2 separate regions of the Homo sapiens genome follow, and region 1 is linked to region 2. Evidence: fine-mapped expression QTL. A gene starts in region 2. The other region holds a variant in brackets. All regions are shown on one strand. Distances are from middle to middle.

Region 1 (4,403 bases), 69 kb before region 2:
TCGCCAGAACTTCCAATACTATGTTGAATAGAAGTGGTGAGAGAGGAGGACATGCTTGTCTTGTACCGGTTTTCAAAGGGAATGCTTCCAACTTTTTGCCTATTCAATATGATACTGGCTGTGGATTTGTCAGAAATAGCTTATTATTTTGAGATATTTTCTATCAATATCTAGTTTATTGAGAGTTTTTAACATGAAGAGATGTTGAATTTTATCAAAGGCCTTTTCTGCATCTGTTGAGATAATCATGTGGTTTTTGTCTTTGGTTCTGTTTATGCGATTGATTACATTTATTGATTTGCGTATGTTGAAACAGCCTTGCATCCCAGAGATTAATCTGATTTGATCATGGTGGATCAGTTTTTTGATGTGCTGCTGGATTCAGTTTGCCAGTATTTTATTGAGGACTTTCACATCAATGTTCATCAGGGATGTTGGCCTGAAGTTTTCTTATTTTGTTGTGTCTCTTCCCAGTTTTTTGGTACAAGATGATGCTGGCTTCATAAAATGAGTTAGGGAGGAGTCCCTCCTTTTCAGTTGTTTGGAGTAGTTTCAGAAGGAAAGGTAGAAGCTCCTCTCTGTATTTCTGGTAGAATTTGGCGGTGAATCCATCTGGTAATGGGCTGTTTTGGGTTGTTAGGCTATTAATTACTGCCTCAATTTCAGAGCTTGTTATTGGTCTATTCAGGGATTTGACTGCTCTCTGGTTTAGTCTTGGTAGGGTGTATGCATCCAGGAATTCATCCATTTCTTCTTGATTTTCTAGTTTATTTACTTAGAGGTGTTTATAGTGTTCTCTGATGATAGTTTGTATCTCTGTGGGGTCAGTGGTGGTGTCCCTTTTATCATTTTTTATTGTGTCTATTTGATTCTTCTCTTTCTTCTTCTTTAATAGTCTAGCTAACAGTCTATTTTGTTAAGTTTTTCAAACAAACATCTCCTGGTTTGTTGATTTTTTTGGAGGGCTTTTCATGTCTCTATCTCCTTCAATTCTTCTCTGATCTTGTCTGTGGACTGCATAAACAGAACCAAAGACAAAAACCACATGATTATCTCAATAGATGCAGAAAAGGCCTTTGACAAAATTCAACATCTCGTCATGTTAAAAACTCTCAATAAACTGGTATATATAGAACATATCTCAGAATAATAAGCTATTTCTGACAAATCCACAGCCAAGCTATTTCTTGTCTTCTGATAGCTTTTGGATTACTTTGCTCTTGCCCCTCTTTCTCTCTCTCTCTTTTTTTTTTTTATTGAGAAAGAGTCTCTGTTGACCAGGCTGAAGTGCAGTGGCATGATCTTGGCTCACTGCAACCTCTGCCTCCCAACTTCCACACCCGATTACTTTTGTATTTTTAGTACAGATGGGGTTTCACCACATTGGCTACGCTGTTCTCAAACTCCTGACCTCAGGTGATCCACCTGCCTCAGCTTCCCAAAAGTGCTTGGATTACAGGCATGAGCCACTGCGCCCGGCCTCTCTAGCTCTTTTATTTGTGATGTTAGGGTGTCGATTTGAGATATTTCTAGCTTTCTAATGTGGGCATTTAGTGTTATAAATTTCCCTCTTAACACTGTTTCAGCTGTGTCCGCAAAATTCTGGTATGTTGTCTATTTGTTATTGGTTTCAAAGAATTTGTTGATTTCTGCTTTAATTTCATTATTTACCCAGGAGTCATTCAGGAGCAAGTTGTTCAATTTCCATGAAATTGTGTGGTTTTGAGTGAGCTTCTTAATCTTGAGTTTTAATTTGATTGCACTGTGGTCTGAGACTGTTTGTTATGATTTCAGTTCTTTTGCATTTGCTGAGGAGTGTTTTACTTCCAATTATGTGGTTGATTTTAGAATAAGTGCCATGTCACACTGAGAAGAATGTATATTCTGTTGATCTGAGGTTGAGAGTTCTGTAGATGTCTACTAGGTCCACTTGATCCAGAACTGAGTTCAATTCCTGAATATCCTTGTTAATTTTCTGTCTTGTTGATCTGTCTAATACTGACTGTGGGATGCTAAAGTCTCCCACTATTATTGTGTGGGAGTCTAAGTCTTGTTTTCGTTCTCTAAGAACTTCTTTGATGAATCTGGATGCATATATATTGAATCTGATGTATTGGGTGCATATATATTCAGAATAGTTAGCTCTTCTTGTTGAATTGTTCCTTTTACCATTGTGTAATGGCCTACTTTCTCTTTTTTGATCTTTGTTGGTTTAAAGTCTGTTTTGTCAAAGACTAGCATTTCAACCCCTGCTTTTTTTTTTTTTTTTTTTTTTTTTTTGCTTTCCATTTGCTTGGTAAGTTTTCCTCCATCCCTTTATTTTGAGCCTGTGTGTCTTTGCATGTAAGATGGGTCTCCTGTATACAGC[G/A]CACAGATGGGTCTTGACTCCTTATCCAATTTGCCAGTCTGTGTCTTTTAATTGAGGCATTTAACCCATTTACATATAAGGAGAGTATTGTTATATGTGAATTTGATTCTGTCATCATGATGCTATTTTATTATTTTGCACACTACTTGATGCAGTTTCTTCATAGTGTCATTGGTCTTTATATTTTGATGTGTTTTTGCAGTGGCTAGTACTGATTTTTCCTTTCCATATTTAGTGCTTCTTTCAGGAGCTCTTGTGGGGCAGGCCTGGTGGTTACAAAATCCCTCAGCATTTGCTTGTCTGGAAAGGATTTTATTTATCCTTCACTTATGAAGCTTAGTTTGGCTGGATATGAAATTCTGGGTTGAAAATCCTTTTCCTTAAGACTATTGAATATTAGCCCCCTATATCTTCTGGCTTGTAGAGTTTCTGCTGAGAGGCTTGCTGTTAGTCTGATGGACTTCCCTTTGTATGTGACCTGGCCTTTCTCTATGGCTGCCCTTAACAGTTTTTCCTTCATTTCAACCTTGGAGAATCTGATGATTATGTGTCTTGAGGTTGATTTTCTCATGAAGTATCTCAATGGTATTCTCTGTATTTCCTGAATTTGCATGTTAGCCTCTCTTGCTATGTTGGGGAAGTTCTGCTGGATAATATCCTGAAGTATGTTTTCCAGTTTGTTTCCATTTTCCCCGTCTCCTTCTGGTACACCAATCATTTGTAGGTTCAGTCTTTTTATGAAGTCCCATATTTCTTGGCGGCTTTGTTCATTCCTTTTCATTCTTTCATCTCTATTTTTGTCTGTATGTCTTATTTCAGTAAGGTGGTCTTCAAACTCTGATATGCTTTCTTTGACTTGGTCAATTCAGCATTGATACTTATGTATGCTTCATGAAGTTCCTGTGCTGTGTTTTTCAGCTCCATCGGGTCATTTATGTTCCTCTCTAAACTGTTTATTCTAGTTAGCAATTCTTCTAGCCTTTTATCAAGTTTCTTTGCTTCTTTGCATTTGGGTATACATGCTTCTTTGCATTGGGGTAGACATGCTCCCTTAGCTCAGTGTAGTTTTTATTACCCATCTTCTGAAGCCTACTTCTGTCAATTTGTCCATCTGATTCTCTGACCAGTTCTGCACCCTTGAAGGAGAGACATTGCAATCGTTTGGAGGAGACAAGGCACTCTGGGCCTTTTGAGTTTTTGGCATTTTTTTGATGATTCTTTCTCATCTTCATGAGTTTGTCTAGTTTTGGTCTTTGAGGCTGCTGACCCTTGGATGGGATTTTTGTGGGGGCCTTTTTGTTGTTGTGGCTGTTGTTGTTACTTTCTGTTTGTTTTTCTTTCAGTAGTTAGGGCTCTCTTTTGTAGGGCTGCTGCAGTTTGCTGAGGGTTCACTTCAGGCCCTATTCATCTGATTTTTCTCCTGTGCCCAGAGATGTCACTCAAGGCGGTGCCTCCCTTGGCTGGGGGAAGGGGGTTTCCCTTCCCCGTGTGGCTCTCAGGTGGGCCTTCTCTCCATGAGTCACGCCAGCCTTCTAGTCAATTTTGACGAGAGAACCTGGATACCTTGGTTGCTGGTGAAGGATTCACATGCTTATTATGTTTTTTCGTTTTTTTTTTTCTATGGGAGCCTCCAAACGTCGCTGCTTCTAGTCGGCCCTCTTCGGGAGGTGTTTTATGTGTATATCCATTTATTTATTCCTCCATCCATCCAGTAATTCATCTTCTTTGATGCATTTTAAAGTAAATTGTGGACTTCAGCATACTTCCTACTAGAGACTTCAGCATGCATAACATTAAATAAAACGAATATCTGTCCATCTTTTTTCTTTTGATGAAAAAATTATTTTCATAATATAAAATTCTTATGTGTACATTCACTGAATGCTGACAAATGTATACATCTGTGTAACTCAAATCTTTGTCAAAATATAGACTATTAACATTACTGCAGAAATATTCCTCATACTCTCTCCCATTCAATCTCTACTTTCACCTTCCCAGAGGCAACCACCATTCAGATTTTTTCCATTCTAGA
Region 2 (4,403 bases):
TAACAACTGGGAACTTGTTAGAAGTACAGAATCATAAAACTGGTGAGCAAAATTTAAATTTTAACAAGATTTGATCCATAGGTACATTCAAGGTTGAAGATCTCTGCTCTAGGAGCAGCGCCCATCCATTTTATTCTGTTGCAGAGATTGCTTCCTCACTTATTTTTACTCACTCTCTGTTGCCTTTGTAAGAAATACAGAGATCACTTTTCTTTTCAAGTCAGTTCTCCCCTACAAAAAATTTTACAAAGTAAGTTTACTAAAGCACTACTGGGCTGCACATAGCGTGTAGGAAATAGAATTGGGAGAATGAAGAAGAAATATGGGGCATAAGATCCACGGCAAACAGATTTAATTATAGTATCAAGAAATTACTAAAAGAGAAGATAAAGCATTTGAGTAGAAAAGATGTCAGGAATCATGTAAAAATAGAGATTACAGTCCTATCTCCTCAACAATCTTCAAATGCATTGCTGAACAACTCTGCATTATAAAGCCTACTGTTTATAACAGTGGCCTCTTATTTTAGAAATATAGCCATCAAAAATTATTATAATACAAAAGCATAAATGTTCAACTGAGTTTAGATACCTGGCTTATTCCCTTTTTCAGTATATTTCATGTCTCAACAATGCTGAGTCATTTATATTCAGTTTTTGAAATCTTTCCAGAAAAGACACTAAAAACTTTGGTATAAATATTTTACATCTATCTCAAATTTTATTCAATGGAAAAGATAAGATTACCTTCAGATTTTAATTACGTCTAGAAAAATAAAAGCCCTAAGGGGTAAAATGCAAGTCTCTAATCTGCTTATTACAAAATGCAATCAATTAAGTAAAGCCTTCATTCCGTACCTCCTCAATGGTACACTGAAGCTAATATCTACTGAGATGTGTGAGCTTTTTGTTAAATTTTCAGGAGTTTTGTGAACTAGTTGCCAATCACAGACATTATTAAAATTTAAAGTATTTATATAAACCTACTAGTTAAGTATTTATATAAACCTATAATTTAAAACAAAGGTAATAAATACTCAAAATTCATGGCATCCTAATTATTTTACTACATTTTACTTTCATGATTTTTTGAGGTTTTTAAAACATCTATTTTATTCACAGGGTGAAAATACCGTATATGCTCTAGTACCGAGTATCTCTTATCAATCCCATGTTTATGTTTAAGGACATTCTATAGACAGATTCAAATTGGCCATGTAGGAGTATTTATGCTACAGAAATTTAAAAACACTATAAAGCAGAACTTGATTTTTATTTTATTGGTTGTCTAGACTTAAGTGATAGAGAAAATTTTAATACTGCAGATTGAAATTGAAATTTGTGGCATGTCCCTAGTTATTACATTTCCAATAGTGCCAAAAAAAGGAAATATTCTCCATGTATTTGAAAACTGTTATTCAATTCAGTGAAGAAATTGCTGACATCATTGATGAACCAGTAAAATTCCAACATAACCCATGCTGAGGCTGAAACAAATTTCAGTTTAATTAATATAGTTTTCACTAAGTGAAAAATAATTTAACAGTGGATCACATATCAGGTGTAACAATAACAATTATTGAGGAATGAATTATCAATTGAGATTAACTGTATTTGTGACATTTTGTTTGAACTGCGTCCATAGTTTGCTATACATACAACAGTTCAGCAAGAATAAATAAAACATTCTCTGAAATCAGTTGGTTATATGGAATTGACAATAAAAAGTGCTGTATATTTTATTATTATCTGTCAAGTGTGTGTTATACATCTTCTATATCAGCACAATTTGTATTATATTTTGTAGTATATATGCATGCATGTGTGTGTGTGCATGTTTATTTTTCCCAGGAAGCTGCTTGTTAAACATTTACTGGCACACTACCCTGTGTCCTTCCCTTACAATGTAACTGTGGCCACTACAGATCACGGAGGAGCACATTAACATGCCCTGGTCTACCATGTGAAAAGAATATCTTAAGTTCTAAATTGAAAAGACACACATGCACAATACTTACTATAAATTAGTGGAAACACTTCTCTGGTCTGTGTTCAATGTGAAAAACTTCTCTGCTGTGAATATGGGGAGTCCATGTTTTCATTAGATCATTCTAAATGAATCTCGGCTCAGGTGATTTATAGCCGATTGCATCAGCCTAAATTACTCTTTGCACATTCATGTTGAAAATATTCAGGGAAACAGTTTTCACTGTATTAGATTATGGAAAAGGAATTGACATCACAGGCATCTAAGTATCAATTGGACCTAGAATCTGATGAAATCATACTGAAAAGCTGCATGTATTACTTTGGCAATCAGATGACTCACCAGCAGAAACTGTACAGATCTCACGAGCAGGCCTGGTGGCCGGAATTTATGCTTATGATTCACAGGAGTCACATGTGCTCCTTTCAAATACACCAGATACAGCTTTCTACTTTATCAAAACAACATCAATCAGTCCACTGTGCTGATGACAGTATTTTTATGTATGTAATTTAGTCCTTGGGGAAATTACTTTTCTATAACGTTCTGGGAAAAGAGTGAACTGTTTCAGTTATTGTTCAGTTCCACATATAAACAACAAAAATGGAGGAAGACAAAGCTGACTGATGTGAAAGGGAATCCTCTGTTGCCCAGTTAGAAACAAATTTTGTTGTAAATTTTGAACTGACTGAGAAAGTGAAAGAAAGCTTTGGTGGAAGGAACAGCACTGACTTTTGCATAATTGTAGGCTTTTCACCTGAAGCATTCCAAACCAAAAACAGTGAGTGGAAATGTTGTACAGTGTCTTCTCAGGCTGCAAAAAGATGATAATATTTTTATGGATCTTCTGAGAAAACAGAGGAGTGATTTATAAGTATAGATATTGAAAACACTGCTGGAAATTTTAAGGATGGGTAGGCAGAAAATCTTCTGTGATCATCAAATTGAGGATGTCCTGAATTTGGAGAGAGGGCAAATTTGAACACAAGGAGCTTATGCAAAAGGAACAAGCAAACAAACTGGAATAAATTGCTGGAAAAACAATACTCCAAGTGCTTTTAAACAGCTCTTCAGTTTATATAGACTTTTAAAAATATATTCTAAAATAAATGTGGATAGAAAAGAGGCCCTGACAGAACTAAACTCTCTTCCACCAACTACAAATCAGAGAGAACGATGATTAGTTTCTCCTAATGAGAAACTAGGGTTAGAGCATCACATTAAAAAGCAAGTCTAATCTTTCTTCCTTCAATGTATGTGACTATGGACTTGCAAAGAAGTCCTTCTTCCTTCTAATTCATATTACAGCTTGCAGGATGGTTGGGATTTACATCTTGAATATTGTGGATTTTACCATACAAATGTATAACTAGGAGGTGGCCTGCTTTTATCTGACTAGTTGACATTCATAAATAAAAGGGTAACAATAATGGAGGAGGGCTTTATGAGAAACCTGAGTATATGATGCTATCCAAGGCTCCAGAAAGGCAAAAAATGTCCCTATTTGGAAGATATATTCAGCAGCTCATGTGCACATTTCAGTTAATATATAGACATATTAAAGATGATATGCACGTTTGTCTTGGAGTGGAATACAAAAATGATTTTTATTCAAACCCAAATGGTGAGAGCAAAAATTATTATGACAAAATTTCTGATAAAGTACCTCAAATTAACATCAAACCCAAACTTCTAGCCTTAGCCATGAGTTTTTACCAGCTACATCTTTTGCTGGAGTTACTGAGCAGCAGAATTGATTCTTCTGTCTCCTCTATAGCCTGAATAATTTTCTCATAACGTAAACAATTTCGTAATCAAATGGCCACAGGAATGGCAAAATATCAGAGAATATGTCGAAATGGAAGGAAATCCTGGGATTATCTGATCTGTAGACTCTTCCTATTAAATTAAACATTAAATGCCTGAAATGTTATAAGACGTTATTAAATATCTGAAACGAAATCTCAGTATGAAAAGCAGATATGTTAGGTGGATGCCTCAGTTGAATTCAGTCTTCTTATTGGGTAAGATTAGTCTTTGTTCACAGAACTACTTTACCACCTTCACTGAGTCCCATGGTTCACTGCAGCTCGGAATGAAATCTCCTGATTTTTCTTCATGTATAAGGAAACTGAGGTCCTGTATGCCAAGCCACTTTCCCCAAAGGTCAAATAGGAAGATAGTGGCAGTGGCAGATTGGAGTCAGTACCATGTTCCTCATACAACACCACAAAGAAGTCAACTTGGTTAGCAACCAAAACTCCGACTGCATTTTTTTCTTAGATTCCATTGTGCCAATGCATAACCTTTGTATTCTTTCAATTTTTAAATGGCACTCTAGAAGAAAAAAAGATATCTGGGAAAGTTTGCTGTTAAGAATATTTTCTCCTTCAAGATTCCTCATTTCAAGTTCTACC

Alleles and levels. Alleles are on the strand shown, and positions count from the first base shown. SD is a standard deviation of normalised expression in the study named.
For the expression in prefrontal cortex of the gene that starts at base 2,114 in region 2, A is the high allele of the variant in region 1 and G is the other (large effect, 0.79 SD a copy in CommonMind).

What was found. PIP is the estimated chance that this variant, and not a neighbour inherited with it, causes the effect.
Region 1: its variant is the best candidate, but not a certain one, in a credible set for the expression of LURAP1L-AS1 in prefrontal cortex (CommonMind, PIP 0.78).

Annotation. Positions count from the first base shown.
Region 1 is chr9:12,743,276-12,747,678 of GRCh38, forward strand. All of the region lies in intron 3 of LURAP1L-AS1 (LURAP1L antisense RNA 1), which reads right to left. Among named protein-coding and RNA genes, the nearest start is that of LURAP1L, 30 kb to the right of the region's middle. The variant G/A (reference allele first, on the strand shown) is at 2,369.
Region 2 is chr9:12,812,276-12,816,678 of GRCh38, forward strand. It overlaps LURAP1L-AS1 (LURAP1L antisense RNA 1), which reads right to left and starts at 2,114. Exons shown (of 4, transcript NR_125775.1): 1 at 2,018-2,114. The region is part of intron 1 of LURAP1L (leucine rich adaptor protein 1 like); the gene reads left to right. RefSeq lists an enhancer at 1,727-2,926.